2 separate regions of the Homo sapiens genome follow, and region 2 is linked to region 1. The links come from fine-mapping of genetic effects on gene expression. A gene starts in region 1. The other region holds a variant in brackets. All regions are shown on one strand. Distances are from middle to middle. Region 1 holds the start of CHP2 (calcineurin like EF-hand protein 2). Region 2 has its middle 25 kb from the start of CHP2.

What was found. PIP is the estimated chance that this variant, and not a neighbour inherited with it, causes the effect.
Region 2: its variant is the best candidate, but not a certain one, in a credible set for the expression of CHP2 in lung (TOPMed, PIP 0.50).

Annotation. Positions count from the first base shown.
Region 1 is chr16:23,751,978-23,757,207 of GRCh38, reverse strand. It overlaps CHP2 (calcineurin like EF-hand protein 2), which reads right to left and starts at 2,182. Exons shown (of 7, transcript NM_022097.4): 1 at 2,092-2,182; 2 at 1,475-1,547; 3 at 1,281-1,361; 4 at 1,015-1,145; 5 at 759-820; 6 at 1-7. The coding sequence starts at 2,158. RefSeq lists an enhancer at 1,649-2,294.
Region 2 is chr16:23,777,147-23,782,376 of GRCh38, reverse strand. No RefSeq gene overlaps it. Among named protein-coding and RNA genes, the nearest start is that of CHP2, 25 kb to the right of the region's middle. The variant C/TATC (reference allele first, on the strand shown) is at 2,481.

The DNA of each region.
Region 1 (5,230 bases):
GGAGAACCTGAGAGATGAGTGAAGAGGCAGCCATAAGGAGGGGGCACGAAGGCTGCAACTCCCCATCTCCTAAACCTTGCCCACCTCATCCCAAAAGTTATTGCTAATTTTATAATCCATCCTTCATCCATTTTTCACCATATCCCCCAATAATTTTCCCTACTGCTTCAACAACCAATCTCCTATCTCTCCCTCACCATCCTGCACTACCCTCAAAATATGCTCAAACTCATTACCCAACTTTATCACCCAACCTCCATCCATCCTCCACACCATTCTCCACCTTAGCCACTAAGGGTTTCTAATTCCATCCTCATTCCATCACATCTGTTCCAGAGTTTCTCAATCTTGGCACTGTTGACATTTGGAGCCAGGTAACTCCTTGTTGGAAGAGGCTCTCCTGGGTATTGCATGATATATAGCCACATTCCTGACCTCTACCCACTAGATGCCAGTAGCACACTCTCTCCCCCATTGTGACAACAAAAAGCATCTCCAGATATTGCCAGATATTCACTCAGGGAGCAAAATCACCCCCAGTTGAGAATCACTGATCTATTCCCAACCTCATAGTCAACTGCTCCCCACTCCGACTCCCAACAAACCCACACTCTAACTGCACCCATTCCCATTTCCCAACCAATACCCCAATTATCTGCGCCCCAGTTCCCCAATCATCCCACCCCATCTCTCACACCATTGCATTTAACCATCCCATCCTTCACACATCACATCTCTTGCTCTCGCTTTCTGCCAACCTGCAGCATCTCATGCCTGGAGATCTTCCCATCGCGATCCAGGTCATAGAGCTGAAATGCATCTGGGGAGAGGGTGGGAGGGGGAAAGGAAGGTAGGTCTTCCCTGGCTCTCTTCCAGCAGCCACCTTCCTTCCCCCCACCTTGGAGGAGGGGGGAGGTTGTCAATGCCCTCAGGAAGGGAGTGGGAGATCCCTGGAGCCTGTCCCTGGTGTGGGTACATCTGCATTCTCACTTGTGCAGGTCCTCACAAACTCACAGTGAAGTTTGTTCCTTCTGCTGTTGAGAGGTTCAGGTTTCTTGGGGTCTTGGGTTTCTGTGTCCTCATCTTCTACAGGGCGAAAATGAGCCAAGACCCTGACAAAGCCTGGGAAATCCACTCGCTGGCTCCTGGGGAGACGGGACAGAATGGAAAGAGGTGGTGGTCACCTTGGCCATCACTTTGCCTCCGTCTCTAACCTCCCCTCCCACCCACTCACACACCGGTTTTCCCGCCTTCACCTCCCCACGCCCAGCAAGCCTCACCCATCGGGGAAGAAGCTTTCTATAATTCGGTCTCCCAGGGGGTTCACGGCGAGCGCCCCTATCTGCTGGAGATCCATGCGGCTGCAAAGCCAAATTTCAAAGAGGGTAAGGCAGAGATGCCAGACGGAGGGTCAAAGAGGGACATGGAGTCAGAGAGACAGAGGCCAGAAGTTATGAGGCCGGCTCCCCCTCACCTCAGGTAGCCCTTCTTATTCCTGTCCAGTGCCCGGAACCGGTGGTGCAGGCGGAGCAGGCTGGCTTGGGAGACTGCGGGAAGGAGAGTGGGGTGGGGGTGTGTGACTCTGCAGGGCCAGCTCCAGAAACCCGCCCCAACAGGCCAGGAAGATGGGCCAGAACAGCGGGGGCTGGCTGGAAGGGGCGATCATCCCGGGGAATCAGGGGTTGAGCTGGCCGGGGCGGAGGGAGAGTGACACGACCCCGCGAAGATCCAGGTTCAAGACCCGGGCGGCTCGCAACCTCCCGAAAACCAAAGAACCAAAGCCATCCCTTCCAACCGCCGTCAGCTCTGCCTTCAGCTTCGAGCCGGGCTGGAGGACACCTGGGTGCCTGGATTCCTCTGGACTCCGACCCCGTGAACCCGGATCCTCCCCAGACTTGGAGGCTGGGACCCCTAGGTTAACCCGCCCCTAACCCAGCGATCCCAGGCACAGGGGCCTTGGTCTTCCAGCTCCGGGGAGCCCCGGACCCCAGACTTGTAAGTTCGTCCATCCTTCAACCCAACCCCTTCCCTAGCCCCAGACGCCTGGGTTCGCCCCGTCCCCTCCGCAGCCGCCGACGCGGGCGCACTCACAGCCGGTCTCTCGCCGAATACTGTCCCCGTCGGGAATGACCGCGGCGTGGGAGCTGCGCGACCCCATGGCCGAGCTGGAGGCGGAAGGGCCGGAGCAGCCACCCGGACCCACGCGTTCTCTCCTCCCGCCGGAGAGGCGTGGCCGCCCCAGTGGCCCCAGGGGGACGAAGGCCACAAGCCTGGCGCGCGGCCAAGCTCCAGAACCCCGGCGTGCCTCTCCTCCCACCCGCGACCCGGGCGAATGGAAAACAATGTGCAGGGTGGCGGGTCAGAGGGAGGCTGCGAACAACGGGCTGTTTCAGCTCCGAGATTTTGCGATCCGCACGGGAGAGGCTGGTCGAGTCCCAGGCCCCGCGTTTCCACGCCTCCCCCGGGGCCGGTTCCCACGGTGCGCCCTGACACCTGAGCCACCTCCTCCTTCGCGGGCCCCGGGCGCTCCCAACCCCAGGGCGCTCCCCGGCGTCGACGCTGAGGAAGCCTGGGAGACCTGACCTCCTCTGTAGAGACCACGCCCTGCTGGAAGGCGGGTGGCCTATGGGGAGGGAATCCTGGGGGGAGGGGGGAAGAGGCATCGAAGAACTCCCAAAGACGGGGAAGTGGGGAGGGGCGGCGAGATGAAGGGTGTGCGTTAGGTTAAGTGGAAAGAGCACTGGTTTGGGAGTCCTTGTTGGAATCCCAGCCGTGCCCGTGACTCTGGGAAAGTCAGTAAATCTTGGTTTCATCCCTTTTGTTCGGTTCACATTGCCTTATTGTTGTTTAATTGAGCCAATGCTTAAAATTCAGGAGATTTAACCCAAAATCCACATTCTTGGCTTTTCCTGAGAAATCAGAAGTTCTATCACCACCAGGCCCAGAGCTGTCTTCTGGCCACAGTCCCTCCAAGCCCAATTCACTCCCTTAGGTACCTACTGATCCCGTAGAGCTCCAGACTGGGAATGACTTAGTCCTCTGAACAGCCCTCCAGAGCCATGGGACTCCTTGGCCCAAGAGAGGGTTACAGACATCACTGGGACTAGGCTTAAAGCAAGAATGACAACAAGGGCTCTTGTTTACCACGCTTTGCTAAGCACTTTACGTGCATCCGTTCACACATTCCTTGTAGGCCCTGCTGGGCTGCTTTCTTCTAATTTTACGTGGTGGAGGCTGCCGGGGGCAAGTTGTGAACTAATTATGTAAAGCGTGCATTCTCAGTGCGGTCTCTATCTCACCCCAACGGGGCAAAAAATAAAACATATTTTTTATGTACAAAGCACAGCATACATACAGCACATAAATAGATATACAGTATAGCTGTGATATTGAAATTTCAGGGCAGACGTGGAGGCTCATGCCTGTAATCCCAGCACTTTGGGAGGTAGAGGCAGGAGGATTGCTTGAGCCCAGGAGCTCAAGACCAGCCTAGGCAACATAGTGAGACCCCATCTCTACAAAAGAATACAAAAAAAAAAAATTAACCAGGTGTCGTGGCACATGCCTGTAGTCTCAGCTACTTGGGAGTCTGAGACAGGAGGATCACTTGAGCCCAGGAGGTTGAGGCTGCAGGGAGCCATGATCACGCCATTACACTCCAGCCTGGGTGACAGAGTGAGACCCTGTCTTGAAAAGAAAAGAGGCCGGGCGCGGTGGCTTATGCCTGTAATCCCAGCACTTTGGGAGGTCGAGACGGGCGGATCACCTGAGGTCAGGAGTTTGAGACCAGACTGACCAACATGGAGAAACCCAGTCTCTACTAAAAATACAAAATTAGCTGGGCGTGGTGGTGCATGCCTGTAATTCCAGCTACTCGGGAGGCTGAGGCAGGAGAATCGCTTGAACCCGGGAGGTGGAGATTGAGGTGAGCCTAGATCGCGCCATTGCACACCATCTTGGGCAAAAAGATCGAAACTTGGTCTCAAAAAAAAAAAAAGAAAGAAAATAAAATTTCATGGGGTAGGGGTGAGGGTGGGGAAATTAAAAAGACTAGGGGAGGCGTTGATAATGAAAAAAAAACAGGTCGAGAAACTCATTTGTCAAGGGACAAACACTAGAAGTGTCCACTTTTGAAAGTATCTTTAAACCGTTTCCCCCATCATAATTGCACATACATACACAAATTTCCCAGGGGGGAAAACATGCAAGCAGTTCATTGCAAGGGCTCAAGTTCATATCCACCCTGGAGAGAGAGAAGCTGAAGAAACAGTCTATCCTCCAGCCCCAGGCAGAGGCCTGCATCAGATAAGTCTTGAAAATATTGATCTAAGAAGTGCTTGCTTCTTTCAGATACCCCCAAGGATTAAGCAACTGGCATAAGGAATGCTTGATTCTCTTTCAGACTCCCCCCAAAGACTAAGCATGCGGGAAACCACACTCCTCCCTAATGAAGCCCAGCAATCACTGCAACCCACAGCTGTGAGTCAGGCTGTGCATGTAGTTTGGGTTCAGTTCTGAACCCAGGAGGAGATGAGAGCCCTAAGAAGCTGTGATAAGCACCGCAGGCCAGCTTGGGATGCTGATCTTGGAAAGGGCTTCTCCAGCCTTAATATTGGAGTCAGTGCTACACCAAAGTAAATTAGGCCGGAGAGTAATTAGGAACTCCCATGCACACATCATACACAAGCTTTTAAGAGAGGGCTGGACCAGGCACAGTGGCTCACACCTATAATGCCAGCCCTTTGGGAGACTGAGGCGGGCAGACCATGAGGTCAGGAGATTGAGACTATCCTGGCTAACACAGTGAAACCCCGTCTCTACTAAAAATACAAAAAATTAGCTGGGTGTGGTGGCAGGCGCCTGTAATCCCAACTATTTGGGAGGCTGAGGCAGGAGAATCACTTGAACCTGGGAGGCAGGTGTGGCAGTGAGCCAAGATCACACCACTGCACTCCAGCCTGGGTAACAGAGCAAGACTCCATCTCAAAAAGAAAAAAAAAGAAAGAGAGAGAGAGCAGGCTATGCTAGAACTCATTTCTGTTTCATGTACACAAGTGAGACTTAAATCAACTTCACAGTTTTTTCAGGTCATTTAAGCGGGAAGATGCTTTGGGGAAAATTTTATCTGCAGAATCTGTTAGACTAGAGTCAGGAGGAATATTTGGTTTTTGCTTTTCAGCTATGTAAAAGTTGCTAGTCATTCTTTTTTTTTTTTTCTTATTTAATTTTT
Region 2 (5,230 bases), 25 kb before region 1:
TTTGGCAGGCAAGGACTGGGGATGGATGTACTGACAATGTGAGAAGTGAGAGCGTGGTAGGAGATGCTGTGGTCCAGTAATTGTGTAGGTGGGTGAAAATACAATAGCAGGAGCAGTTCCCGGTTAGAAGGTTTAAGAGGCTCCTCCAGTGACCAATGGTCAGGTAAAGATGGGCAGGAAAAACCCAGCGAAGGGAGGGGGGTGATATTTGGGGTCTCACTGGCCCCAGGCTAGGGAGGCACTTTTGTTGTCAACTCACTTGGGGCTGCCTTCCCCAAGAATCAGTTGGGTCACCAGTGGTCTTAGCTACTCAGGAGGCTGAGGTGGGAGGATTGTTTGAGCCCGGAAGTTCAAGACCAGCCTGGGCAACATACTGAGACCTCCATCTCTAAATAAATAGATAACCTTAAAAAAAAAAAAAAAAAGAGTCAGTGGGGAACAAAGAGGAAACTCCCCCCCATCTACCCACCCATACCCCCAAGGCAAGACACAGAGGGCCAGAGCAGAAAACAGAGTTGGGGCCAGGCATGGTGGCTCACGCCTGTAATCCCTGCACTTTGGAGGGCCAAGACGGGCAGATTCACCTGAGCTCAGGAGTTCAAGACCAGCCTGGACAACATGGCAAAACCCCATCTCTACTAAAAAATTAGTCAGGCATGGTGGTGTGCACCTGTAGTCCCAGCTATTTAGGAGGGTGAGGCAGGAGAATTGCTTGAGCCCAGGAGGCAGAGATTGCAGTGAGCCAAGATTATGCCACTGCACTCCAGCCTGGATGGCAGAGGAAGACCCTGTCTCAAAAAAAAGAAAAAAAGAAAAGACAAAGAAAACAGAGTTGGGATGAACATAACAGCACAGAGTTAATGTAGTCAGACTGGGTTGCAATTTATTTAACATCAGAAATCTACAAAGTGCCCTTTTCATCATGTCCTAACAAGCATTGATTGTGTCTTTTGTTTGTTTTTTAGTCTTTGCTAATCTGATTGGCGAAAAGGGCTTTATTGTGACACAGGGGATGTTCTATCTAAATTGCTTGCTTACTCAAACCTTTGAGGGTGACACAGTGATTTTCATCTTTCCAGTCCCAGCATGTCACTTGACCTAGAATTAATGGATAAAAGTGCCATAGCATGGCTGTTTTTATTTGTATAAAAATGTTACAAAGAAAGAGTTGGCTGGGCAGGCATGGTGGTTCATGCCTGCAAACCCACCCTTTGGGAGGCTGAGGCAGGAGGATCACTTGAGCCCAGGAGTTCAAAACCAGCCTGGGCAACATAGTAAGACCTCGTATCTAGAAATAATTTTTTAAATTAGCCTGTATGGTGGCTTGCACCTGTAGTTCCACCTACTTGGGAGGCTGAGGTGAAAGGCTCACCTGAACCCAGGAGGTCAAGGATTCAGTGAGCCATGTTCGTGCCACTGCACTCCAGCCTAGGTGACAGAGGGAGACTCTGTCTCAAAAAAAAAAAAAAAAAAGAGTCAAGCATTTTCCTCAACAGTTTAAGCACAAGGAAAGCTTGGTACTTTGTGGCTTACAATAATGTCAATCCAGGGATGAGATAATTGGTGGCTGGCTCTTGTCATCACGAAAGGTTTACTCAGGCTATTTCATTAATGTTGCAACTGAAACCCTGCATTTGATATAACTCAATCATCGGACCACTTAGAGCACTGTGTAGAAGTTATAATATAAGGTAGTCAGTTTTTAGTCTGAGATGTCTCCAACTAGGAGTCATCTCTATACCTCTAAGAAGGGTCGGATAAAATAAGTACAAAAAGGAGAGGATAGTGTTTCACAGTCAGATGCCTACGGTCAGCGAGCCAAATCTGCCTGCAGCTGTATAAACAAAAGTTTTATTGGAACACAGCCAGGTTCATTCACTTTTATTTTGTCTATGGCAGCTTTTGCCCTACAATGGTAAAGTTCGATAGCTGAAACACTAGCTTTATAGCTCTCAAAGTCAAAACTATTTACTATCTGCTTTTTTTTTTATTTTTTGAGATGGAGTTTTGTTCTTGTTGCCCAGGCTGGAGTGCAATGGCGTGATCTCGGCTCACTGCAACCTCTGCCTCCCGGGTTCAAGCGATTCTCCTGCCTCAGCCTCCTCAAGTAGCTGGGATTACAGGCATGTGCTACCATGCCTGGCTAATTTTGTTTTTTTTTTTTTTTTTTTTTTTTTTTTTTAGAGACAGGGCTTCACCATGTTGGTCAGGCTGGTCTCGAACTCCTGACCTGAGGTGATCCACCCACCCCAGCCTCCCAACATGCTGGGATTACAAATATGAGCCTCCACAGCCAGCCTACTATCTGCTCTTTCACAGGTAAAGCTTGCCCGCCTTGTTCTAGACCCTACCCCTCTCCAGAAATGGTGTGTGGAACCAACCCAACTTGAGGAAGGTTTACATCAACGGATACAGAGGAGCACAGAAAGGTAGGGGGTCATTTGATCCTCACAGCAACTCTGTGAGGTAGGTACTGTTAT[C/TATC]TTTACAGATGGGGAAACTGAGGCACAGAGCAGTTAAACAAATTTCCCAGAGTCACATAACCAATGATTGTTGGAACTGAGATTTGAACCCAGGTAGTCTGCTTCTAGAGTTTGCACACTTAACTGCCACCAATAATGGCACCTAGAAGTTTTCAGGAGTGGGGGAAAGAAACATAATAGGCACATACAAAAACTAATACTCTTCAAGAGCATCATAAGAAGCTAGAAGAAAAATGAAGCAATACTTTTCCTTTTTTTTTTTTGAGAGAAAGGCTATTTTCAACCTAAAATTCTAGACCCTGACACCTTACCATCAAGCGTAATGGCAGAATAAAGACATTATAAATCATGCAAGCTCTCAAATATTTTTCACCAATGCACTCTTTTTTTTTTTTTTTTTTTTTTTTTCATGGAGTCTTGCTCTGTCACCCAGGCTGGAGTGCAGTGGAGCAATCATCTCAGCTCACTGCAACCTCTACCTCCCAGGTTCAAGCAATTCTCCTGCCTCAGCCTCCTGTGTAGCTGGGATTACAGGCACCTGCCAACATGCCCAGCTAATTTTTGTATTTTTAATAGAGACGGGGTTTCACCATGTTGGCCAGGTTGGTCTTGAACTCCTGATCTCAAATGATCCACCCACCTCAGCCTCCCAAAGTGCTGGAATTACAAATGCGAGCCACCACACCTGACCACCAATGCACTCTTTCTTAGGAGGTTACTAGGTAGTCTGCTCTATCAAAATGAGAAATTAAAGCTATAAAGAGGAAAACAGGGGGTCCAGGAAGCAGTGGAAGCAGGAAAAAGGAAAGGGAATCCCTAGGATGAGAGTAAAAAGTGGCCCAGAATGTACAGCAGGTCTGTTCACACTGAAGCAATAAGTTGGGAAGCCAATGACAAACCCACAGCCAATATCATACTGAATGGGCAAAAACTGGAAGCATTCCCTTTGAAAACTGGCACAAGACAGGGATGCCCTCTCTCACCACTCCTATTCCACATAGTCTTGGAAGTTCTGGCCAGGGCAATCGGGCAGGAGAAAGAAATAAAGGGCATTCAATTAGGAAAAGAGGAAGTCAAATTGTCCCTGTTTGCAAATGACATGATTGTATATCTAGAAAACCCCATCGTCTCAGCCCGAAATCTCCTTAAGCTGATAAGCAAATTCAGCAAAGTCTCAGGATATAAAATCAATGTGCAAAAATCACAAGCATTCTTATACACCAATAACAGACAAACAGAGAGCCAAATCATGAGTGAACTCCCATTCACAATTGCTTCAAAGAGAATAAAATACCTAGGAATCCAACTTAAAAGGGATGTGAAGGACCTCTTCAAGGAGAACTACAAACCATTGCTCAATGAAATAAAAGAGGACACAAAAAAATGGAAGAACATTCCATGCTCATGGATATGAAGAATCAATATTGTGAAAATGGCCATACTGCCCAAGGTAATTTATAGATTCAACGCCATCCCCATCAAGCTACCAATGACTTTCTTCACAGAATTGGAAAAAACTACTTTAAAGTTCATATGGAACCAAAAAAGAGCCTGCATTGCCAAGTCAATCCTAAGCCAAAAGAACAAAGCTGGAGGCATCATGCTACCTGACTTCAAACTATACTACAAGGCTACAGTAACCAAAACAGCATGGTACTGGTACCAAAACAGAGATATAGACCAATGGAACAGAACAGAGCCCTCAGAAATAATACCACACATCTACAACTATCTGATCTTTGACAAACCTGACAAAAACAAGCAATGGGGAAAGGATTCCCTATTTAACAAATGGTGCTGGGAAAACTGGCTAGCCATATGTAGAAAGCTGAAACTGGATCCCTTCCTTACACCTTATACAAAAATTAATTCAAGATGGATTAAAGACTGACATGTTAGACCTAAAACCATAAAAACCCTAGAAGAAAACCTAGGCAATATCATTCAGGACATAGGCATGGGCAAGGACTTCATGTCTAAAACACCAAAAGCAATGGCAACAAAAGCCAAAATTGACAAATGGGATCTAATTAAACTAAAGAGCTTCTGCACGGCAAAAGAAACTACCATCAGAGTGAACAGGCAACCTACAGAATGGGAGAAAATTTTTTCAATCTACTCATCTGACAAAGAGCTAATATCCAGAACCTACAAAGAACTCAAACAAATTTACAAGAAAAAAAACAAACAACCCCATCAAAAAGTGGGCGAAGGATGAACAGACACTTCTCAAAAGAAGACATTTATGCAGCCAACAGACACATGAAGAAATGCTCATCAGGACTGGCCATCAGAGAAATGCAAATCAAAACCACAATGAGATATCATCTCACACCAGTTAGAATGGTGATCATTAAAAAGTCAGGAAACAACAGGTGCTGGAGAGGATGTGGAGAAATAGGAACACTTTTACACTGTTGGTGGGACTGTAAACTAGTTCAAACATTGTGGAAGTCAGTGTGGCGATTCCTCAGGGATCTAGAACTAGAAATACCATTTGACCCAGCCATCCCATTACTGGGTATATACCCAAAGGAATATAAATCATGCTGCTATAAAGACACATGCACATGTATGTTTATTGCAGCACTACTCACAATAGCAAAGACTTGGAACCAACCCAAATGTCCAACAATGATATACTGGATTAAGAAAATGTGGCACATATACACCATGGAATACTATGCAGACATAAAAAATGATGAGTTCATGTCCTTTGTAGGGACATGGATGAAGCTGGAAACCATCAT